Regions from separate parts of the Homo sapiens genome. Here region 2 is linked to region 1. Evidence: fine-mapped expression QTL. A gene starts in region 1. The other region holds a variant in brackets. All regions are shown on one strand. Distances are from middle to middle. Region 1 holds the start of ZCCHC10 (zinc finger CCHC-type containing 10). Region 2 overlaps LOC105379182 (a long non-coding RNA gene).

Evidence for each region. PIP is the estimated chance that this variant, and not a neighbour inherited with it, causes the effect.
Region 2: its variant is fine-mapped to the expression of ZCCHC10 in tibial artery (GTEx, PIP 0.97).

Annotation. Positions count from the first base shown.
Region 1 is chr5:133,020,255-133,032,865 of GRCh38, reverse strand. It overlaps ZCCHC10 (zinc finger CCHC-type containing 10), which reads left to right and starts at 6,317. Exons shown (of 5, transcript NM_001300816.3): 1 at 6,317-6,369; 2 at 9,960-10,025. The coding sequence starts at 6,329. RefSeq lists a silencer at 6,038-6,167 and an enhancer at 6,248-6,557.
Region 2 is chr5:133,928,103-133,940,713 of GRCh38, reverse strand. LOC105379182 (a long non-coding RNA gene) reads left to right here. Exons shown (of 5, transcript XR_948797.3): 4 at 11,777-11,914. Among named protein-coding and RNA genes, the nearest start is that of WSPAR, 21 kb to the right of the region's middle. RefSeq lists enhancers at 7,397-7,456, 6,919-7,546, 10,241-10,390, 11,974-12,023 and a silencer at 9,941-10,020. The variant A/G (reference allele first, on the strand shown) is at 5,406.

The DNA of each region.
Region 1 (12,611 bases):
GCAGTATCTTCCCATCCTTTAAATACACTTTTTTTTCATGGATTTTGGTTCACCTGCAATTTGAGGAGCCCTAACGAATCAGTCTACCACATATAAAATTCATGATGCAGTGCAGTAGGTATGTTCACATAAAAATGCCAGGGATTAAAATATACTTTGAGGGTTTATCAATGATGAAAAGCCCTTTAGCTGGATCTGGTGGTGAGCACCTGTAGTCCTAGCTACTCGGGAGGCTGAGGCAGGACGATCACTTGAGTCCAGGAGTTCAAGACCAGCCTATGTGGTCGTGAACCTGCAAGACCCTGTCTCTATCCCCCTCCCTAAAAAATTTTTAATTAGCCAAGCATGGTGGCACATGCCTGTAATCCCAGCTATTCAGGAGGCTGAGGCTGGAGGATGGCTTGAGCCCAGGAGGTCGAGGCTACAGTGAGCTATGAATGCACCACTGCTCTTTAGTATTCCCAGCTACTCAGGAGGCTGAGGTAGGAGAATTGCTTGATCGCTTGAACCCGGGAGGCTGAGGTTGCAGTGAGCCAAGATCGCGCCACTGCTCTCCAGCCTAGGCGACCGAGCAAGACTCCATCTCAAAAAAAATTAAATTAAATTAAAATTTAAAAAAATAGCCCTTCAGAACATCGATTTTTTTTTTTTTTTTTTTTTTTTTTTTTGAGACAGAGTCTTGCTCTGTCTCCCAGGCTGGAGTGCAGTGGCACCATCTCGGCTCACTGCAAGCTCCGTCTCCCAGGTTAAAGCCATTCTCCTGCCTCAGCCTCCCGAGTAGCTGGGATTACAGGCAGCTGCCAACACGCCCGGCTAATTGTTTGTGTTTTTAGTAGAGATGGGGTTTCACTGTGTTAGCCAGGATGGTCTTGATCTCCTGACCTCAAGTGATCCGCCCACCTCGGCCTCCCAAAGTGCTGAGATTACAGGCGTGAGCCACCGCGCCCAGCCAGAACATCGATTTTTAAGTGACTGCTAATAAAATTTCATTGGAGAAAATGGAAAAGAAACTGTTTGTTTGTTTGTTTGTTTGTTTGTTTGAGATGGAGTTTTGCTCTTGTTGCCCAGGCTGGAGTGCAGTGGCACAATCTCTGCTCACCGCAACCTCTGCCTCCTGAGTTCAAGCGATTCTCCTGCCTCAGCCTCCCAAGTAGCTGGGAATACAGGCATGTGCCACCATGCCCAGCTAATTTTGTATTTTTAGTAGAGATGGGGTTTCTCCATATTGGTCAGGCTGGTCTCAAACTCCCGACCTCAGGTGATCCGCTCGCCTCGTCTCCCAAAGTGCTGGGATTACAGGCATGAGCCACTGCGCCTGGCCAGAAACAGTAGTTTTTAAATGCAGAGACAGAACATGAATATTTTGTCACAGAAATAATCCTGGTCCAACATATAATAAATGGACAAGTGTACTGTATTACCTAAAGTGGACACATTTACAAATGCTGGCAATACTTGGAAATTTGCAGCAAGCTTTAATATGCATGTGATCCCAGCACTTTGGGAGGCTGAGACTGGTGGGTTACTTGAGCCCAAGAGTTCAAGAGCAGCCTGGGCGTGCACACACACACACATGCACACACAGATTTGCCAGGTATGGTGGCACATGCCTACAGTTCCAGCTACTTGGGAGGCTGAGGTGGGAGGATTGCTTGAACCTGGGAAGCAGAGGTTGCGGTAAGCTGTGATCGCACCACTGCATTCTAGCCTGGGTGACAGAGTGAGACTGTCTCAAAAATAAAATTAAATAAATAAAAACAAATTAAAAATTATATATATGTAATATAGCTCTATCATATATATATATATATATATATATATATATATATATATATATATATATATATATATATGATAGAGACAGAGTTTTGCCATTTTGCCCAGGCTGGTCTCAAATTCCTGGGCTCAAGCAATCCACTCACCTCAGCCTCCCAAAGTGCTGGGATTACCGGGATGAACCACCATGCCTGGCCCTAAAGTGTTCTTAAGCTATATTTGCTTTTTGTGGAGACAGGCTATCTTGCCATTCTTATTCATAAAACAAATTATAATTACTGTTTTATTTTGCATTACACACCATGTAAACTTAATCTTGATTTAGTATTTTTCTTTTTGAGATAGAGTCTTACTCTGTCTACCAGGCTGGAGTGCAGTGGTGTGACCTCAGCTCAAGCCGAGGCAATATTAGGTACACAGATACTGCAGGGGGTTGAACCTGATGATCTGCTGGCAATTGTTTAAAGAGGAAGCACACAAGTTCCCAGTCCTGAGATCTGAACTTTTCTGATTCAAGATCTTTGCAAGGCCTGGGTGTTCAATTACTTCTATACTATGAGCTAGCCAATAAACTTCCAATAAATTCATTGTTTATGTGGCCAGAGTTTTGTTTTGTTTTTCTTGCAATTGAATCTGAATTGACATAAGGAAATTGGTTCTGTGTTATCTCAAACAAAACTGGCTGGAAGGGAGAAATAGATGTGTAATGGAAAAAGCTCAAGGCTGTGGGCCTTGGACAAATCTCTTAACATGCCTGAGTCTCAGTCCCTTTATTTGTAAAATGAGGATAAACCCTACCTGTGGTGATAAAGTCAAGGATCCTTTGGGGTCAAGAAAGAGAAACCTAACTTGAACTATCTTAATAAAAAAAGAAATGCAGGCTGGGTGCAGTGGCTCACGCCTGTAAACCCAACACTTTGGGAGGCCAAGACGGGCAGATCATTTCAGGCCAGGAGTTTGAGACCAGCCTGACCATCATGGTGAAATACTATCTCTACTAAAAATACAAAAAATTTAGCCAGGCATGGTGATGCATGCCTGTAATCCCAGCTACTTGGGAGGCTGGGGCATGAAAATTGTTTGAACCCGGGAGGCAGAGGTTGCAGTGAGCCAAGATCATGCTGGGGCACTCCAGCCTGGGTGACAGAGTGAGACTTCGTAGGAAAAAAAAAAAAAGGAATATACTGAGGAAGCTGAGATAACCCCAAATAATCGAAGGAAAAGCGAATCAAGTCTAGGTAGGTCTTTTTCTGTCTCTCATCTCTGTTTCTCTTGGCATGTCAATTTCCTTCTCTTCTACTGCAGACTAGTTTAAATCACCAGAGGAGCCAGCAAATCCTGGACTCACAATCACACAGCCTTATGATCTATGTCACAGCAAAGTGTTGCATCAAAGCCTGAGGACTTTAAGGAACCCAAGCAGCTTCATCTGAAGATAAGGAAACATGACACAACTATTGAGCATTTTGTTTTTAGGTCTTCTTGGAAAGTGGAAATAAATTAAGGAAAGCAGCTCTCACCTCATTCTGGGGAGTTTCGGGCACTACTCATGCCCTCATGCCCAGAGGTGGATGAAAGAGCCAATCCTGTTTTCATTTGGAGAATCAGAGCTTCTTACTCACAGAGGCCCAGAATGGCCACTCTCAAATCCCCTTGCATAGCCACTCTTCTTTACAAAATGAATGGTCACCCTGCTCTGAACCACTCCCTTATTTAGCCAAGTTAGTTAAATTCTTTTTCTTTTTCTTTCTTTTTTTTTTGAGATGGAATCTTGCTCCGTCGCCCAGGCTAGAGTGTGGAATGCAGTGACACAATCTTGGCTCACTGCACCCTCTGCCTCCTGGGTTCAAGCGATTCTCCTGCCTCAGCCTCCTGAGTAGCAGAGATTACAGGCATGTGCCACCATGCCTGGGTAATTCTTTTTTTTTTGAGACAAGTCTCGCTATGTCACCCAGGCTAGAGTGCAGCGGTGCAATCTCGGCTCACTGCAACTTCTGCCTCCTGGGTTCAAGCAATTCTCCTGCCTCAGCCTCCCCAGTATCTGGGATTACAGGCACGCACCACCACTCACGGCTAATTTTTGTATTTTTAGTAGAGACGGGGTTTCACCATATTGGCCAGGCTGGTCTTGAACTCCTGACATCAAGTGATCCACAAGCCAAGATCATGTCACTGCATTCCACAGGTGTGAGACACCATGCCCAGCCAAGTTAGTTAAATTCTTTTATGCTACTGGAAGAAGAGTTCTTGTTGTTCTATGCCAAGGCATATGAAGGGTAAACCTACACTTGATTTTTGTACCAGATTCCAATTTTACCATTTACAGCACCGAGGTTTCCTGAATAGTTACAATAACCAATGGTAAAACATAAAGGGTAAAAACATTTTTTAAAAAAACAATAGCGCCATCCCGGTGCGTTGGCTCATGCCTGTAATCCCAGCACTTTGGGAGGCCAAGGCAGGCGGATCACCTGAGGTCAGGAGTTTGAGACCAGCTTGGCCGACATGGTGAAACCCTGTCTCTACTAAAAATACCAAAATTAGCCAGGCACGGGGGCAGGCGCCTGTAGTCCCAGCTATTCGGGAGGCTGAGGCAGGGGAATCACTTGAACCCGGGAGGCGGAGGGTGCAGTGAGCCAAGATAGTGTCACTGCACTCCAGCCTGGGCAATAGAGGTAGACTCCGTCTCAAAAAAAAGAAAAACAGGGTGCATGTCCTTTGACCCAGCAATCCTACTAGGATGTCATCTTATAGCAACACGGGGGATTTACTCTTTCTGTTGTTGTGGTAAATGATCTAATTGTTCAGCAATAGGGTACTGGCTGGATACTTGGGGAATATCCATGTAATCCATAACATAATGTATAAAAAGAATGAATTAGATCTGTATGTGCAGACATGGGAAAATATTTTCTTTTCTTTTTTTGTTTTTGAGATGGAGTTTCACTCTTGTTGCCCAGGCTGGAGTGCAATGGCGCGATCTCGGCTCACTGCAACCTCTGCTTCCCAAGTTCAAGCGAATCTCTTGCCTCAGCCTCCCGAGTAGCTGGGATTACATGAATGCACCACCACGCCCGGCTAATTTTTTTTGTATTTTTAGTAGAGATGGGGTTTCTCCATGTTGGTCAAGCTGGCCTTGAACTCCCAACCTCAGGTGATCCGCCCTTCTCGGCCTCCGAAAGTGCTGGGATTACAGGCGTGAGCCACTGCGCCTGGCCGGGAAAACATTTTCATAAGTACACTGAGGAATGAAAAAATCAAGCTGGAGAACACAACATGTAAGAGCCTATTTTTTTGAAGAACAAGTTGTGCTCAAAGGTCACATCATCACCTTCCCTAACTCCTAATCACTCTTTAATCCCTTACTCTGAAATATTTTTCGTTAGAGTACTTATGCCCATGAGAATAGTCTTCATTCATTGTCTGTAGAAAGTTCCATGTGTACACGGATTTTATTTGTTCAAATGCTCTGTCCTCAGCTCCTAAAACATTTTAAGTGTTAATTATTAATTGAAAAAATATGGCTGGGCGCGGTGGCTCACGCCTGTAATCCCAGCACTTTAGGAGGCCGAGGCGGGCGGATTATGAGGTCAGGAGATCGAGACCATCCTGGCCAACATGGTGAAACCCTGTCTCTAGTAAAAATACAAAAATTAGCTGGGCATGGTGGCGCGTGCTTGTCATCCCAGCTATTCGGGAGTGTGAGACAAGAGAATCTCTTGAACCAGGGACCCAGAGGTTGCACTGAGCCGAGATCGCGCCACTGCACTCCAGCCTGGCGACACAGCGAGACTCTGTCTCAAATTAAAAAAAAAAGGAAAAAATATGGATGACCCAGAAACACACACACACTTCAGAAAATTATATATATTTCAGAGAACGTGGGTTTTAAGAGAATAATAGCTCCGTGAGCTGACATTAGATGTAGGTGCAGCTAAAATATTCTAAAATATTTGTATAGTCCTTTTCTGCTTGATAAAGCAGCTTTAGTTATACAGTCCCATTTAGTACTCGTAACAACGCTGTGAAATACATAAAAAACAGAAATAACGTATATGTTTGCACTCCATGGCTTGCTAAAGTCATTCTTTCAATTGATGGTCTCAATCCTGGTCAACTAATTCCTTTCTATTCTCCAGACTACTTCTAGTTTTCTGAACACCAAAGTTTCATTCTTTGTCTTTGTATGTGTATCCCTCGTTCGAGAATGTTGTCCTCATTTTCCACAGATAATGTTCTTGCCTGTAATCATCCTTTGAAACCCTGTTCGGCCCGAGAACCCGAGACCCATACTGGAGACACCGGCCCCTCCCGACCCACCAGTCCCTCCCGTCCCGACCCTCCAGCCCCTCCAGCCCCTCCCCTCCCGACCCTCCAGCCCCTCCCCTCCCGACCCTCCAGCCCCTCCCCTCCCGACCCACCAGCCGGCACTAAGATACCTCCCCTTAGAAGCCTGTCTGGCCCCGCCTACGTCTACGGCCTCCCGGTTGGAAGCCCCGCCCTTCCGAGGAGTTTCCCAAAACCCTGCGCGGCCGGCTTTGACCGCGCTAAGATGGCGACTCCCATGCATCGGCTAATAGCCCGGAGACAAGCGTAAGTAAGGATCCGGTTCGGGTCCACTGGAGGGCTGGGAGCGGGGAAACGCGCGTCAACGGGCTGGTGTCGGACCCCTATTGGGACCGGCGGAGAATGTCCGTTTCTCAAACACTCTTCTGGCTCCCGGGGGGCTCGGGCCCGGGCGATAAGTCTGGTGACCGGGGGTTAGCGATTTCGCGGAAGACAGCCGCGTAAAGTCTGCGGCACGGGACAGAGCGGGGTTTGAAGACAACTGTCGCGTTTGGTTTCTCTGAAAGGAACGCCCACAGTTGGTCACTCAGTGATTTATGCCCCTCCGCCAACCCCACGCGTGGACAGGGGAGCCCTGAAGCCCCGGTCCGACACCTTTATTCCAGCCGACGTAAACCTTCAGTTTCCTATTCAGTGTCCAGCCCAGCTGCCTTTTCCTACTTCCTTATTCTAGCGCCTTCCTTAGGAACACCCTGCCTTCAATGCCGATTGCTTTCCCAGGCTATCTTACCACCTTTTGCTACTCATTCTCTCTTTCAATAAATATTAATTTATTTAGTTCCTACCGTTCTGTGCCAGACATTGGGTATAAATAGAGGTGTTCAAGACAAAATCCTTGCTTTCAGAGAGCTTACATTCTAGTGATGGAAACAGTCGATAAACCACAAATTGTAAATACAGCTGGTGATAACAGCTTTGAAGGAAGTAAGCTGTTGTGATGGAAAGAGGGAAAGGCCCACTTTAGGTTGGTTGGACTGGAAAGGCATCTCTGAAGAGGTGGAATTTGAACAGAGATTTAAAGGATGAAAAAGGAACAGTCATACGAGGATTTTGAGAAAGAGCATCCGGATAGTGGCATAATTGCTTTGAGCCTGAAACTTACTTTTTACAGAACTGAAAGATAGCCATTACGCCTAATGAACAAGAGAGAGTGGCAGAAGAGATTCATAGCTGACAAATAATGCAAGGGTCACCCCAGATGCCCCTTTCTTTTTTTTTTTTTTTTTTTTTTTTTTTTTTGAGGCGGAGTCTTGCTCTGTCTCCCAGGCTGGAGTGCAGAGGTGCAATCTTGGCTCACTGCAAGCTCCGCCCCCCGGGTTCACGCCGTTCCCCTGCCTCAGCCTCCCGAGTAGCTGGGACTACAGGCGCCCGCCACCATGCCCGGCTGGTTTTTTGTATTTTTAGTAGAGATGGGGTTTCACCGTGTTAGCCAGGATGGTCTCGATCCCCTGACCTCGAGATCCGCCCGCCTTGGCCTCCCAAAGTGCTGGGATTACAGGCGTGAGCTACCGCGCGCGGCAACCCCTTTCTTATAAAGCTTTTTTTTCCAACAGCCTTTGCACATCCAGACATCTGCCTCTTTTTCATAAATATTTCATGCCATCTCCATTTTCATGTCTATATGTAGCTCAGAGTCTGCTAGTATATGTATGTGTGTTTATCTGTATATCTTTTTATATTTTTTAATTCAAATAATCCCTTTTTCTTCTCCTTTCCATCTACCCTTTCAGGCCTGATAAGAAGAGTTCCTCAAATGTACAGACAGACTTAGGGAGTTAGAGTAGTAAGCTTGGTGAAGGAAGAAGGCTCGAAGTCAGACAGGTTTTTTTTGTTTTTTTTTTAGACGGAGTCTCACTCTGTTGCCCAGGCTGGAATGCAGTGGTGCGATCTTGGCTCACTGCAACCTCTGCCTCCCTGGTTCAAATGATTCTCCTGCCTCAGCCTCCCGACTAGCTGGGACTACAGGCGTCCGCCACCATGCCCTGCTAATTTTTGTATTTTTTAGTAGAGACGGGGTTTCACCATGTTGGTCAGGCTGGTCTCGAACTCCTGATGTCAAGTGATCTGCCCACCTTAGCTTCCCAAAGTACTGGGATTACAGGCATGAGCCACTGCGCCCACCATTAAGTCAGACAATTCTGAGATCAAAAATGGGATGGTGATACTTAAAGGGAGTGCTAAATGATGTCACCAGGATCCCATTTCTCCCTGTCTGTCTCTCATGCTTGCTCTTTCGTTGTTGGCTCCATATTTGGATAGGCTCTATTCTTTGCTCCCAAGATGGCTGCAGTATCCAGGGTCCTATCTATTCTCTCAGCTTCAAGTTGATTGCAGTTCTTTGGTCTAGATTGGATTACATGCCCAGTGCTAAACCATGCCTGTGGGATTGTGAAGCTCTGATTGATTTAGAGATCTTATTCTCCTTTCAGTACAATTGAATGGATGACCATAAGCCAATGATAACCAGGGTGGATAGGTCAGAGGAGTTAAATGAATGCAGGATTGGCAAAACCAATGTCCACTTTAAATATGAAGTGAAAATAAGACTTAGCATCTGAATAATACTGCTATTTCTTGTTTCAGAAGTATCAAAAGTTAAACAAATTTTTATATCTACAATATGTCTGTATTTGGTACATGAGTTACATGATTTGTAAAAGACAAATCTTACCTTTAAGGAGCTTCTGGTCTTGTTGGGAAGCAAACATGTGGCATATTATAAAAAGTGTTGTGGTATACAGAGTGTAAGTCTCCAAGGGATTCAGCAAAGGAGGGCCTTTAGAGGCTTGCGAAGTCCAAGAGAATTTGGGGGGAAAGCAGGAGAGGAGCCTTTACTTTTCATTTTATATTCATCAAAAAGGTTTAATTTTATTTACAAGGAGCATATATTACTTACATAACAACAAATTTAAAATAGTTTTTAAGTTAGTAATGAGAAATGAGAAAGCACTATCATCAATTTTTTTTTTTTGAGATGGAGTTTTGCTCTTGTTGCCCAGGCTGGAGTGCAGTGGCATGATCTTGGCTCACCGCAACCTCCACCTCCCAGGTTCAAGTGATTCTCCTGCCTCAGCCTCCTTTAGCTGGGATTACAGGCATGTGCTACCCGCCTGGCTAATTTTGTATTTTTAGTAGAGACGGGGTTTCTCCATGTTGGTCAGGCTGGTCTCGAACTTCTGACCTCAGGTAATCTGCCCACTTCAGCCTCCCAAAGTGCTGGGATTACAGGTGTGAGCCACCGCACCTGGCTTTATCGTTCTTTAAAAAAAAAAAAAAAAAAAGGTCTTTGGACTAATAGAAGAAGACGGGGAAAAAAGTCTAAATACGAACTCCTCATTCAGTAGATCTTTCGGAGACTTAACTAGTCAGTCTACTAAATCAATTGGAATGAAATAATTGATTTAATTATTTTTACCTTGTAAACTGTACTTACATCTACCTATATTAAGTAAATTATGGAGTCTAGGCATTATTTGGGGTCATTTCTTCTATTAAACCTTATATGAGATTCCACTACTCCTTCTTCAACATCCAGAGTCGTCATCAAACTTGGCTTGAAGACTTCCAGTAATGTGTACTTACCTCCTGAAGTGGCCTGTTGTGTTTTCAAATCTATCTAAAAGTTTATGTTGAGCTGAAAAACAATAATATTTATAAAGTTAAACCCCATTTCTTTCTTACTCCCTTGTTTTTGAACCTTGCTATGATTTCAGTCAGTTAAAAAACCTTGTTTTCTACCTGAATTGTCATCAAGTCAGACCTCCCCTGCCTTGTATTGATTTTCTGGACTTAAGTGTCAGACTTACCTTTGTCCTTGTTAAATTTCATCTTGTTAGATTCGACACAGAGTTGCAGCCTGTCAAGACCTTTTGGATCCTGATTCAGCCATCCATCGTTATTAGGTATCCCTCTCAGCTTTGTGTCAACTGCAGGTTTGATAAATATGTACATTTGTGTCCTCATACAAGGCATTTATAAAAATGTTGAACAAGGCCGGGGCGTGGTGGCTCATGCCTGTAATCCCAGCACTTTGGGAGGCTGAGGCAGGTGGATCACAAGGTCAAGAGATCGAGACCATCCTGGCCAACATGTTGAAACCCCATCTCTACAAAAATTACAAAAATTAGCTGGATGTGGTGGCATGCGCCTGTAGTCCCAACTACTCGGGAGGCTAGGCAGGAGAATTGCTTGAACCCGGGAGACGGAGGTTGCAGTGAGCCGAGATCTCGCCACTGCAGTCCAGCCTGGCGACAGACCGAGAGTCTGTCTCAAAAAAAAAAAAAAAGTTGAACAATACCAAACCATGCAGGCCATAACTGGATCTCTCTCTATATTGTCATGCACCACATAACAGATCCCATATATTAATTCTATGGTTGTCCCATAAGATTATAATGGAGCTAAAAAAATTTCTGTTGCCTAGTGACATCTTGATGATCCTGACCCTGTGTAGACCTAGGCTAATGTGTGTGTGTCTTAGTTTTTTACAAAAAAGTTTAAAAAGAAAAATAAATTTTAATAGAAAACAGCTTATAGAATGAAGATATAAAGAAAGAAAAAATTTTTGTACAGCTATAAATGTGTTTGTGTGTTAATGGTTATTACAAAAGAGTCAAAAAGTTTTAAACATTTATAAGTTATAAAGTAGGCCGGGTGCGGTGGCTCATGCCTGTAATCCCAGCACTTTGGGTGGCCCATGGTGGGTGGATGACCTGAGGTCCAGAGTTCAAGACCAGCTTGATCAACATGGTGAAACCCCATATCTACTAAAAATACAAAAAATTAGCCAGGTGTCGTGGCGGGCACCTGTAATTCCAGCTACTTGGGAGGCTGAGGCAGGAGAATCACTATAACCTGGGAGGCGGAGGTTGCAGTGAGCCGAGATCACACCATTGCACTCCAGCCTGGGTGACAGAGCAAGACTCTGTTTCAAAAAAAAAAAAGTTATAAAGTAAAATTGTAGTAAGCTAAGATTAATTTATTATTGAAATTTAAAAAAATTATAAATTTAGGGCAGCCTAATGTACAGTATTTATAAAGTCTATGGTAGTGTCATGATTACTGTAGCTTCATAATAAGTCTTGAATCCACGTGTTAGTCCTCTGATTTTGCTCTTTTTCAGAGTTATTTTGACTATTTTAGATTGTATTTCCAGATAAATTTTAAATTAGCTTACCAAAAGCTGCTGCGATTTCAGCTGGGATTGCATTGAGTGTACAGATCAACCTATGGAGAATTGACATCCTAACAGTATTGAGTTTTCTGATCCGTGCTTATGTATATCTCGCCATTTATTTAGGTCATCTTTAATTTCTCTTAGCAGTGTTTTGTAGTTTTCAGAGGTCTTGCACATCTTTTGTCAGATTTGTCCCTAAGTATTGTAATAGTGTTTTTTAAAAATTTTAGTTTCAAAAGGCTGGGCGCAGTAGCTCACGCCTGTAATCCCAGCACTTTGGGAGGCTGAGGTGGGCGGATCACAAGGTCAGGAGATCGAGACCATCCTGGCTAACACGGTGAAACCCTGTCTCTACTAAAAATACAAAAATTAGGCCGTGCGCGGTGGCTCACGCCTGTAATCCAGCACTTTGGGAGGCCGAGGCGGGCGGATCACGAGGTCAAAAGATCAAGACTATCCTGGCTAACACAGTGAAACCCCATCTCTACTAAAAATACAAAAAATTAGCCGGGCATGGTGGCGGGTGCCTGTAGTCCCAGCTACTCAGTAGGCTGAGGCAGGAGAATAGCGTGAAGCCGAGAGGCAGAGCTTGCAGTAAGCCGAGATTGCACCACTGCACTCCAGCCTGGGCGACAGAGCGAGACTTGTCTCAGAAAAAAAAAATAATAAATACAAAAAATTAGCCGGGCATGGTGGCGGGCGCTTGTAGTCCCAGCTACTCGGGAGGCTGAGGCAGGAGAATGGCATGAACCCGGGAGATGGAGCTTGCAGTGAGCCAATATTGCACCACTGCACTCCAGCCTGGGTGACAGAGTGAGACTCCGTCTCAAAAAAAAAAAAATTTTTAGTTTCAGTTGTTGCTGGTAGTCTTGTGTCTAATGATCTTATGTCCTCTGACCTTACTAATTTATTAGTTCTAATAGCTCTTTTTTTTTTTTTTTTTTAAAGACAGGCTTTTGCTTTGTCAGACAGGCTAGCGTGTAGTTGTATGATCATATCTCGTTGCAGCCTTGAACTCCTGGCTCAAATGATTCTCCCACCACAGCCTCCTGAGTAACTGAGACTACAGCTGCAACCCACTACATTCAGCAATTTTATTTTATTTTTTTATTTATATTTTTTTGAGACAGAGTCTTGCTCTGTGGCCCAGGCTGGAGTACAGTGGCGTGATCTCGGTTCCTTGCAGCCTCTGCCTCCCAGGCTCAAGTGATTCTCATGCCTCAGCCTCCCAAGTAGCTGGGATTACAGGCTAATTTTTGTATTTTCAGTGGAGTTGGGGTTTTGCTGTATTGGCCAGGCTGGTCTTGAACTC
Region 2 (12,611 bases), 910 kb before region 1:
AGGATAGTAAGCTAAAAACAATATTGCATCCTTGGCAGGGGGTGGGGGGAGGATTTTAGAGAATAGCATCAAAATACAGGGATCCTGGAATCAAGAAGGTAAAAGTGAGCAAAGCTTCCTTCACTACTATACCTAATAACACACTCATAATTTTTGCTTCCTGACTTTGCAACTTTGGACTCAGCTAGTTTGGAAGTCTTGGTTTTCAAGGGAGAAACCAGGAAACACAACAATGACACCACAGAATTGGAAGTTTAGACTGCTACCTAGCCTCTAATGTTAGGCTGCTAACAGGCACAGATGGTGTTTACCATTTGTATTAGTTTTCGCATTGCTATATAGAAATACCTGAGGTCGGGTGCAGTGGCTTACGCCTGTAATCTCAGCACTTTGGGAGGCTGAGGTGGGTGGATCACCTGAGGTCAGGAGTTCGAGACCAGCCTGACCAACATGGTGAAATCCTGTCTCTACTAAAAATACAAAAATTAGCCAGGTGTGGTGGAGCATGCCTGTAATCCCACCTACTTGGGAGGCTGAGGCAGGAGAATCACTTGAACCTGGGAGGTGGAGGTTGCAGTGAGCCAAGATCACACCTTTGCACTCCAGCCTGGGCAACAAGGGCGAAACTCCATCTCAAAAAAAAAAAAAGAAAAGAAATACCTGAGACTGGATAACTTATAAAGAAAAGAGGTTTAATTGGCTCAGAGTTCTGCAGGCCATGCAGGAAGCATAGTGGCTTATGCTTCTTGGGAGGCCTCATGAAACTTACAATCATAGTGGAAGGCAAAGAGGAAGCAGGAATGTCTTATGTGGCTGGAGCAGGAGGAAGAGAGAGAGAGACAGAGAGAGAGAGGGGAGGAGCTACACACGCTTAAACAACCAGATCTCACGATAACTCACTCACTATCACAAGAACAGTACCAAGGGGAATGGCGCTAACCCATTCATGGGAACTTCACCCCCCATGATCCTGTTACCTCTCACCAGGCCCCACCTCCAACAGGGAGGATTACAATTCAACATGAGATTTGGGTGGGGACACAGATCCAAACCATATCACCATACTAGTGGGATGATTGATCCTGATTATCAATACATTCATTGTTTTGCTTAAGTTAGTTTGAGTTGGTTTCCTGTCCTTTGCAACAAAGATATATAGTAGGAGCTCAATAACTACTAAATTGTGAGTTAGTTTCTCTTCCATCTCTTTAGGTTGCTCCATGAATGGGCCACAGAGTAGCATGAATAATTCCCATTTTTTTCTATGGGTGAGAGGGTCCATTCTGACCCGGTTCCTGACTACACCTGGAAATGGAGTCCACTCTGAGGTGGGGTGGGGGCAAAGGGGAGTGCAACCTGGAGAGAGCAGCAGAGAATGGAAACAAACTTTGGTTGTTTTTTAAAACATGAAAAAAAATGTAGCAATTTCACTTCATGTTTAGTATCACTTTACATTTTATTCCTCTCCCCAAACACTCTCAGGGCCTCTGAAAGTTTCTGCAGTGCACAATTTGAAATTGCTTCTTTGTTTCATAACTCCAGGGATAGCTTGAGGTAAGAGTCAGAGCTCTAAAGGAAGTCACCTTTGTGCCCCCGCTTCTCTTTGTTACAATGCCCAGTGATGCTTACTTAATGGGTCGGAAATGAGGTCTCAGGTGTTTATGTCAGAGCTTTGAGAATCTTATCTGGTGGTGCAACTTTCACTCAAAATTAATGTGCTGCATGGTGAGGGGGATGAATAAACTCGTTAGGAGAGTGAACAGATTTCCTCATTGTCACCTAACAGCATTCATTGTTTGTGTGCTTAGAATAATGTCTTTTCTACAAACCAAATGGGAAAATGCCCTAATGTATTTCCCTGAATTTGGCCTGCCACTATTGTAAATTACCTTGCTTAATGGACTTTGATATTCTGTTATCTATTTGGAAACTTCTGAGCTCCTGGAGAACCAAATCAAGTGTCTTAGTCCCAGGAAGGGAAGGCAGGCTTAGAAGATTTACAGCTCTGTGAACATCATTATTGATGTTTGTTGTGTTTTGCAAACAACTTTCCTGTGGAATAAGTGCTTATGATGATGCTGCGGGCAGTTTTTCTGATAAGTCGCCCTGAAATAATGACTACCAGGGACCATAAATTCCCTTTGGAAATCAACATTCCAGGAAGGTATTTGGCAATTATTTCAACCCCACCCCCACCCCCACCTCAGCTGCTCGTGGGAACCCTGCCAAGTTCCTCAGCAACCTTCAGGGTATTTACTAAGGTCGCTAAAATAATCATAACAACAACAACTCCAACAACTCCAACTCACTCCAACTCCAACAGCACACATTTGTAGCTTACAGAGGGGTTCACAGACCTTATCTCACTGAAGAAATGCGGAAGTTGAGGCCCAGGGACACCAGCCAGTAGTGAGGGCTGCTGGAAACAGGGCAGGGCCCACTGTCTCTACTCTGTACTTCTGTGTTGGTTAATTTTATGTGTTGACTTGACTGGGCCACATGCCACCCAGATATTTGGTTAGACATTATTCCGAGTGCTTCTGTGAGGGTGTTTTTGGATGAGAATAACTTTTCTTATTTTTTGTTACTATTTTTTTCAAGAGTCAGAGTCTTGCTTTGTCACCCAGGTTGGAGTGCAGTGGCATGATCACAGCTCACTGCAGCCTGAAACTCCTGGGCTCAGGTGATCCTCCTTCCTCAGCTTCCCAAACAGCTAGGACTACAGATGTGCATCACCACATCAAACAAAGTTTTTATTTTTATTTTTCTAGAGATGAGGTCTTGCTGTGTTACCCAGACTGGCCTTGTTCTTTTTGAGATAGGATCTCGCTCCATTGCCCAGCCTCCAGGCTGGAGTGCAGTGGTGCGATCTCAGCTGACTGCAACCTCTGCCTCCCAGGCTCAAGTGATCCTCCCACCTCAGCCTCTGAGTAGCTGGGACTACAGGTACGTGCCACCATGCCTGGCTAATTTTTGTATTTTTTGCAGAGATGTAAGTTTCATCATGTTGCCCAAGCTGGTCTTGAACTCCTGGACTCAAGTGATCCACCTGCCTCAGACTCCCAAAATGCTGGGATTACAGGCATGTGCCACCACACCTTGCTGAGAATAACATTTAAGTAGTAGACAGAGTAAAGCAGGTTATCTTTTTTAACGTGGTTGGGCCTTATCCAATTAGTTGAAGGCCTGAATAAAACAAAAACGCTGACCCTCCCCCAATTAAGAATTCTTCTGCCTGATGGCCTGTGAACTGGAACATAGGCTTTTCCTGGTTCCACAGCGACTTCTGGCCTTTGGGCTTAAACTAGGACATCAGCTCTACAGATTTTGGATTTGCCGGACCCCATAATCATGTGAGCCAATTCCTTAGAAGTCTCTCTCTCTCTCAATCTGTCTGCCATCTCTCAGTAGCCATGTTCACAAACTCTTTATGTGTATATATGGCTGCTATTGGTTCTGTTTCTCTGGAGGACTCTGACTAGTACAGCCACTCATCTCATGTCATTAAACAATGTACCCCCACTGGCCCCCCTTGCCAGTCCCTGAGCTGAGGTGCAGGCTTGAGTGAGGGAGACAAAAGGCTAAGATTGCTTGTGAGAGTAAAGTGTTTTTAGATTTTTAAAAATTTAAATTGTGGTAAAATACAGATAAAAATTTACCCTACTGATCATTTTTTTAAGTGTATAGCTCAGTAGGATAATATATTCACAGTGCTGTATAAAGTTTTGATTTTAGCTGGACTAGATAAGACTCTTTAATACCTGAAGATAACATCATCCTTAGAGCCAAAAGTGACCCCAAATTATGGGATTTTCAGGGAGAGGAAAAAAACAAAAAAAAGCTCTTGCCTGTTTGCCTCGTGGAGCTGAGGCCTTTCTCTAAACCATGGTGGGAGCCAGCTGTAGAGCTGTGATAACAGCAAGGTCATGAGGAGCCACAGAACCGGAGGAGGGGCCACAGAACTGGAGGAGGAGACACAGAACCAGAGGAGGGGCCACAGAACCGGAGGAGGGGCCACAGAACCAGAGGAGGGGCCACAGAACCAGAGGAGGGGCCACAGAACCGGACGAAGAGCCACTGAACCGAAGGAGGAGCCACAGAACCAGGGGAGGAGCCACAGAACGAGAGGAGGAGCCACAGAACCAGAGGAGGAGTCACAGAACCAGAGGAGGAGCCACAGAACCAGAAGAGGAGCCACAGAACTGGAGGAGGAGCCACAGAACCAGAGGAGGAGTCACAGAACTGGAGGAGGAGCCACAGAACCGGAGGAGGAGACACAGAACCGGACAAAGAGCCACTGAACCGAAGGAGGAGCCACAGAACCAGGGGAGGAGCCACAGAACCAGAGGAGGAGCCACAGAACCAGGGGAGGAGCCACAGAACCAGAGGAGGAGCCACAGAACCAGGGGAGGAGCCACAGAACCAGAGGAGGAGGCACAGAACTGGAGGAGGAGCCACAGAACCAGAGGAGGAGACACAGAACCGGATGAAGAGCCACTGAACTGAAGGAGGAGCCACAGAACTGGAGGAGGAGCCACAGAACTGGAGGAGGAGCCACAGAACAAGAGGAGGAGCCACAGAACCAGAGGAGGAGTCACAGAACCAGAGGAGGAGCCACAGAACTGGAGGAGGAGCCACAGAACCAGAGGAGGAGTCACAGAACCGGATGAAGAGACACTGAACCGAAGGAGGAGCCACAGAACCAGGGGAGGAGCCACAGAACGAGAGGAGGAGCCACAGAACCAGAGGAGGAGTCACAGAACCAGAGGAGGAGCCACAGAACTGGACGAGGGGCCACAGAACCTGATGAGGGGGCCACAGAACCGGAGCAGGGGCCACAGAACCCGGGAGGGGAGCCACAGAACCAGAGGAGGAGCCACAGAACCAGAGGAGGAGCCACAGAACCGGGGGAGGAGCCCAGAACCAGGGGAGGAGCCACAGTACTGGAGGAGGAGCCACAGAATCAGTGGGGGTTTGGGGAGGAGGGGTCATCCTGGCTGAATGTTGAAGAATGGTGGGATCTGAACAACTGAAGATGGGGAGGGCGAGGGGCCTGAGGTGGCCAGTGCAGAGAACAGCCTGAGTGCAGGCCAGTCTCAGCACATACACCTGCCACCCTGCTGCCAGGATGGTGGGCATGTGTCCTCGGACCACAGCCACCTTGATGACCATACACATTCCTGTTGCCTCTGCAGTCCTAGCTGGTTCTCTAGCAGCTCTATAATTCTGGAGGAGCAGTGTGCCCATCCCCTACTCCCTCTGAGCTTCCTCTCCACGCCTGAGAGGCATTTTATAAATAGCCTGTTGACAAAACCTTAAATATAATACCCCTGGGAGCTAAATTACCCAGTGGCACAGCTGTAAGTATGTAAGGGCCATCGGGGTGTGACCAGTGGGGCTGGCAC[A/G]TGCAGGGAGGGGCAGAGCATGGCGCTTTGCTCCTGGTCCATGTCCTGAGCATGACCAGGACTGGCCTGAAGGAGTGGGATAGGAGCTGTCTAAACAGAGAGCCCTTCCTCAGGGTCCTCTGTCCTGACCAGCTTCTTCTCTGAGACCATGAAAGAACAGAGCACATGGCTGGGGGCAGTTTGGGGAGGAGCCAGCCTCTGGGGTCAGGCCTGGGACCCTGCACCAGGATTCCACCTGAAGCAATTCAGCCTTAAGTAGTGGTCTGCATCCCAGGCCTGGGGGATCTGACTTCAGCCTGCTGGCCGCCCCCACTCACCACATTGTGGCCACAGGAGCCTTCTTCCATGACTTCATATGCATGAAACCCAGGTTCCCTGTGGGGTCCCTTGCCTGCCAGGACCCCACAGGACCTCCTTTTCTTACTCTTTTGACCAGCTTCTTCTATCTGCCCCTCAAATCCCAACCAAAATTGTGCAGATGGGCTTTCCCCTATCATTCCATCCCTGGCTTGGATGAAATCAGAGCCCCTGGTGTACACTCCTGTGTCCCTCAAATTCTAATAGTTATTATATACTCATTGTTGAGTATCATTGTCATTGCTGGCTGAATGCCTGCCATCATTGAAAGCTCTGAGGACAGGGCACTGTCTGGCTGTTGCTCCCTGTATCCCTAGCACTTAGCATGGGGCCTGGCACACCGTGGGTGTGCAGGGAGTGTGACTGAATGAAAGACGGAAACTTTAGCAGAGCCCACACCTCTTTAAAACTAGAAGCACCCATACTCCAACAGCTGAGACCTCCCTTCACCTCTCTGGAAACATCTGGCAAGCTCCACAACTCAGTCCAGCTGAAGGAAGTGGAAGGGCCAGCCAGACCTTGCGCCAGGGTGTCCTGAGGACATACAGCTGGGAGCACTGGGCTGTGATCTTTAGCCAGGCAGGAGTGGGATGGCAGGAGAGGCGGTGCCTGCCCTGCAGGATCCTGGTTGGTGCCATCGTGTCAGTCACCCGGAGTGGGCCACAGGGGACAGAGAGGCCACCTTACACTCTACAAGGCAGGTTGTGGAGAGGTGAGGCCTTCGTGGGCAAGGGCAACTGGGCAGTGTGGTCTGTTAGGGTGTCGGGAGTGTCAGGTGGGGAGGCAAAGCTCCAGGCTGTGTCAGGATGTCAGGAGACACAGAGGTGAGGCCACAGCGAAGGTACAGGACTCGCCGCAGTTCCTGCATCATGAAGCCCTTCCTGACGAGTCCAGGCTTTGCTGACCACACCAGCAGCGTTAAAGTGAAGACCTGGTCATGCAGATCTGGAAGGTTGGCGCCCCTAGGACAAGCCACAACCCAGCAGGTCCCAGGTGGGAGGGAGAGGGTTAGGCAGCAGTGAGCAGTTGGGCCCACCTGGGACCACAAGGTCCCCACAGGCTTTCAGGGCTCAGATGTGTGAGCGGGGGTGGGAGCGGAGGGGAGAGGCAGTGGAGGAGGGTACAGGGAGAGAGAAAGATGGGTGGGAGGAGAAAGTGGGGATGAGGAGGAGGAAGGGAAGTGGATAGAGAAGGAGGAGGGAGGAGCAGGGAAAGAAGAGGAATGAAGGAAGGGGTGAGGAGGGAGGGGAGCCCTGGCCGCATGGTCGTTGGGCAGGCCTGGTGCAGGCAGTGTGGCCCACATGCTGCCCCTCCAGACACGGGGCTCAGCCTGGTGGCCGGGGGCAGGGAGCCTCCTGGCCTAAGCCTCACATTCACAATTGCCTCTTTATATTTAGATGTTGGGGATGGTTCCAAGTGAGGTTTTAATGTTAGGAGCAGTTATTTGTTAAATGTAAGCATTTAAAACCTGCCACAGGATTTATATCCGCATCTTGGTATGTCTTTGGTTTTTAATCTATAAGAGGCCTGATAAAGTAAGTGGATGTGGTCCAGACCTCTGGGCCTGGGGCAGCCCCATGGGGAAAGCCTTTCTCGGGAATAGAGCCTCAGGCTGAGGGAGCCCTAGGCCCAGTTCCCACTTGTACACATTGCTGGATGTCTTACCTCACTGGCTCTGCAAGCCCTGGCCAGCCACCAAGCCTCCCCACCACTGGGAGAACTTAAGGTGCTTTAATCAATTCTTTTTCACCCCATTAGTGCGGGAGGATGTCACCCTATGGTTACGGGATGCGTGAACACTTGACACCCAGCACTGGACAGATATGTTGACAGCAGTTTATCAGTCATATATGCTCACAGCCCCAGGGAGGACTCAGCACTCCACACCAGCCACAGGGGAGTCACACTCAGGAGCAATGTGAACCACCTGGGGCTGTGGAAGCAGGCTTTGTAGTACCAAGAGGGCGAGGTGCCCCTGCTGCCCATGGGAGGACGTGGTTGACTTGGCTGAATAGTTCTGAGGGCTGGCAGGGAACTGAAACTCAGAGAGAAGCAGGAACTGCATCTGGTCTCCCGGATAAGGAGGTTGTCTGGCCAGAGGACCTTATCCACAGGAACAGAGGTGGAGGGGGAACTTGTGGTTAGACCATCCGAGGCCCTCCCAATTTTACCAGTTGTCACGGTGGCACATAGTAGGCCTTCATTTTAGGCCTTATAGCACAAATGAGCTAATGGGCTTAGAGCTCCTGCTTCAAGTGCAGGGCAGAGGAAGAAGGCTGGAGCTGGAGCAGATGGCGGCATGGTCAAGGGCTCAGTGAGAGCTCGGGAGAGGCTGTTGGGGACTGCGAGGGCCCCAGGAGGTCGCCCAGGAAGACACGTTAAAGCTCTCTGGCACATTCTTGCCCCTGCTGTGCTTAAACCAAATCAAACTTATTCCTGGTAGAGGACCATTCCATTTTTCTGATCTGATGGAGAAGAAATACGTTGAATTGAATGAAGATACACTGAATGTCTTCAGGCCAGTAGTCTCAAGGTCCAGCCACCAAGAGGGCAAACTGACCTTGACAGGTGCAGGATCAGGGTCCTGGGATGTGGGAAGCCCTAGAGTATCTTCCGTCCCCCTTCTCCCCTCGAAACCCTAGATCTGGGCTCATGGATGGACTTGGGGAGTCATCAGAAAGATGGAGACAGGCTGGGCACGGTGGCTCATGCCTGTAATCCCAGCACTTTGGGAGGCGGAGGTGGGCGGATCTCTTGAGGTCAGGAGTTTGAGACCAGCCTGGCCAACATGGTGAAACCCCATCTCTACTAAAAGTGCAAAAAATTAGCAGGGTGTGGTGGCGCATGCCTGTAATTCCAGCTACTCAGGAAGCTGAGGCAGAAGAACTACTTGAACCCGGGAGGCGGAGGCTGCAGTGAGCCGAGATCGCGCCACTGCACTCCAGCCTGGGTGACAGAGCAAGACTCTGCAAAAAAAAAAAAAAAAAAAAAAAAAAGAAAGAAAGATGGAGATGTGGCCCAGGGCCACACATTCCAGATCTCCATGGTTTCCTTTGGAGTCATTGTCTCCATCTTTGCAGACTGACAGGTCAAACCCTCCAGTGTGCCCTTAACCGCAGCAGTCTCTGTATCCTCCTTCCACTTGGGCTTCGCTACTCCTCTGAGCCCAGTGCCAGACTCAGGGGCTGCACAGGACCCCACCCTTGCTTTCCTGGCCCTCACGCTGTGGTTCCCTCGGCCTTTCCACAACGCTTCCTGATTCTGTAGGTGCTGGAGCTTCTTCCTGCAGTGGTCAGTGGTCCATTGTCCTTGTCACACTTTTCTGACCCCAGTGAGGGGACAGTGTATTTGGATATGAATCTGTTTTGGTCTCACTGCAAGATTTGGGACACTTTTCCTAAAGTTGGGAAGGGGCTGGTGGTTCAGTGTGCAGGTTTCGCAAGCAATAGAGAATGGTACACCTGGCCTAGGCACTTGCTAAGACCTGGCAGGACCTCAGGGGGGTATCTGGCAGAGGCCCACCCTTGCTGTCACATCAGGGGTGATGTGAGACTCTTCCCTGAATGTTCTGCTGTGTACAGGACCCCCAAGAATATTGCATGACCCTAGGGAGGGAAAGAGGCCTCACTAAAACCTGACCAATGCTGGCTTTCTCATCAGCCTTGGAAAGTGGCTCATGAAACACCACCTACTCATTTTTCCCCCTAACTATAAAAGCAATTCGTCTTAGAAAATTTAGAAAATATGGAAGAATGCAAAGACGACCAGACTTACCCAGAACCCCACCACCCAGGAGGAAGCACTATTGCCATTCGGGTCTCTTTCCCTCCAGTCATGATTTTGCCTGTTTAGTGATGAATATATGCAGTTTACAGGATGAGGGTTCCACTGTAGAGAGAGTTCTGTTTGCTGCCTTTTGTTTAATAGCTGCACAATATTCTCCTGCATGGATCTGCTATCATACATTTCCCCTTTTTTGGGCTATTTGGGTTGTTTCCAGTTTTTTTTTTTTTTTTTTTTTTTTGCTATTATTAGTAATGCTGCTGGAAACGTCCTTGCATATTGGTCTTTATGTATGTCTCTGATAACGTGATTTGTCACGAGTCACTGTGCAAAGACCCAGCTTGGGTATAAGGAGGTGTCCCAACCCAGAGCTCCAAAGTTAGACACAAACACCCATTTTCAGAGCTCTTGTCCCTTTAGCGAGGGTGTAGTGTGCGCCAGATTAGAGCTAACCTTCTCTTTACCTGCCTGAATTACCTGCCTGAAGGGTTCAAGTCTTCCCCACAACCCTTTAAGGTGACAGTATTTCTGCCCCTGGTTGACAGACAAGGGAACTGAGGCACAGATAGAGGCTAACTACTTGCCCAAGATCCCATAGTCAGTGGCAATGCTGGAACTTAAAACAAACAAAAGCAAACCACCCACCGCAGTGCAGGGACGGCGGCTCTGACACAAACGTAAATCATATCGTCACTAGCTGACTCCCACATGCCCGTTCGCGTTTTCACTTTCTCTGCTGCTTGGGTTTTCCACACCCCATCTTCCGGGTGGGTGTCTGAACACTTCCAATTCAGGACTGTTGAGCCTGACACTTCCTCTGCATTCGCTTGGCTCAAAGCTCCTGTCCACCTCCATCCACCACATCTGAAACTTTGAGAAGGGAGCTTCAAAATGTCATTGGAGCTGGAACAGCACATTTGCTGGTGGGGGACCCTGCTGTGACTCACTGCTGGGCTCAGAGCCACTGGAAACATTTCTCTTGGTAAGGAGGCCAATGTGGCCAGCAGAGCTTTACAGGCCCAAGGCCCTGCCTGAGCTACCTCAGAAGAGAGGAGGCACCGTGTAGTGCTTCCAGAACGCCTCCCACGGTCTCTCAGCGGAGTGGGGACCCACGGATGTGCTGAGGAGAGAGATCCAGACTGTGGGTGACACATGCAAATGCCCAGTTGCCACATACGCTGGACTCTTCCCAGTTCCAGGAGCCTGCAAAGCTCCTGAGCCTGTCTTTCCAGAATGTTCTTCCAGCCAAAGTCTAAGGTGCTGATGAGGAAAAAGCAGAGTAAGACTGTGATGATGCTGGAGAATGTGTACCCATACTGGAGGCAGTATGGGGACTGTCGTGGGTTGACCTGTGCCATCCAAAAGACATGTTACAGTCTTAGCCCCATTATTTCAGAATGTGACTTTATTTGAAAATAGGGTCTTTACAGATGAGGTTTGTTAAAATAAGGTAACACTGGATTAGGGTGGGCCCTAAATCAACGGCTGGTGTCCTTATAAGAAGGCCATGTGACAATGGAGGTGGAGATTGGTGAGATCCAGAAGCGAGGAGACGCAGGGAATTGATTCTACCTGGAGCCTTCAGAGGGAACATGGTTCTGCAGATACTGTGATTTTGGACTTGGCCTCCAGAACTGAGAGAATACCTTTCTTTTGTTTAAAGCCACCCAGGTTATGAACACTAATATAGGGGGTGAATTGGAGGGCTTGGCCCACCCGGAGGCACTAGATTCCATTCCTAGAGGCTGGAACGATGTCCTCAAAAGAGGAAGGAAGGGTTAGGACAGGATTTTCAATCCAAAAGTCCAAGTAGAAGGAAACATATTCGAAGCTTGGCCCTTAAGTCTGTGATCTTGGCCTTCTCAATGGTCTGTCCCTGGGGCCTCCCCAGTTTGGTCAGGCTCTGGGGCCTGTGTGGGCCCGACAGTGCATATCCTCTGTGTGAGGACTGGTCTGGCTGAGAAGTTTCTGTGTGTTATGGGATCAAAACTGAGATTGGACTTTGTACGTCCAAGCCAGAAAGTAGAAAGTGATTTCCTTTAAATCATCTTAAAAAGTTTCTGACTAGAATTTTAAGTCTGTTTATCAGCACAAGGGACTCTATATCACTCTCTACCACCCCCTATTTCTCTATTTTAACTGGAAGATAAAAATAGTTAATCAGAGAGTCAGAGTTGAATGGGGAAAGTACCTGATTCTCACATTCTTTCCTTTTTCTCTCATTCACAAAGTGAATTTGGAGATAGGGAGCAGCTGGCTGAGGGAGGAGCGCCCCAGCATCTGTATTGATGGAGAAGAAACCCGGCTGGGTCCATGGGGACCCACAGCTGCCACCATCAAAGCCTCATCCAGCATAGGCCGGAGCAAGGGTAAAAGCTTATTTGCGGGGAGCTGAACTTCCCCTTCCCCAAAGCCAGACAGCAACCTGAGTGACCCGGTTCAGAGTGGAAGCCTGAATCCTCCCCTCCTTTCTCTTATTTGTCATTATTTAAAAATCCTTCAGTCCCCTTCAGGGCTCAGATCTTATTGCTGTTGATTCCCGCCCCCTCCCCCTTTTTTTTTTTGAGACAGGGTCTCACTCTGTCACCCAGGCTGGAGTGCAGTGGCATGATCTCAGCTCACTGCAACTCTGCCTCCTGGGTTCAAGCTTTTCCCACCTCAGCCTCCCGAGTCGCTGGGATTACAGGCACGTGCCACCATGCCCAGCTAATTTTTTGTATTTTTAGTAGAGATGAGGTTTCACTATGTTGGACAGGCTGGTCTTGAACTCCTGACCTCAGGTGATCCACCCACCTCGGCCTCTCAAGGTGCTGGGATTACAAGCATGAGCCACCACGCCTGGCCCCCGATGTCCATTTTTTATGCAAATGGTTGTTTATTATGTCTGCTCACAGCCCCAGGAGGACAGGGATTTTGTTCCTTTTGTTCACTGCTGTGTCCTCAGTGCGTAGAATGTGCTTGGCGCATAGTGGGTGCTCAGAAAATATTTATCGAATCAATTAATCTGAAAAAGATTGCTGCTTTGCGGAGACACGTGCTGACTGTAATCTCAAATCCACGTGGAAG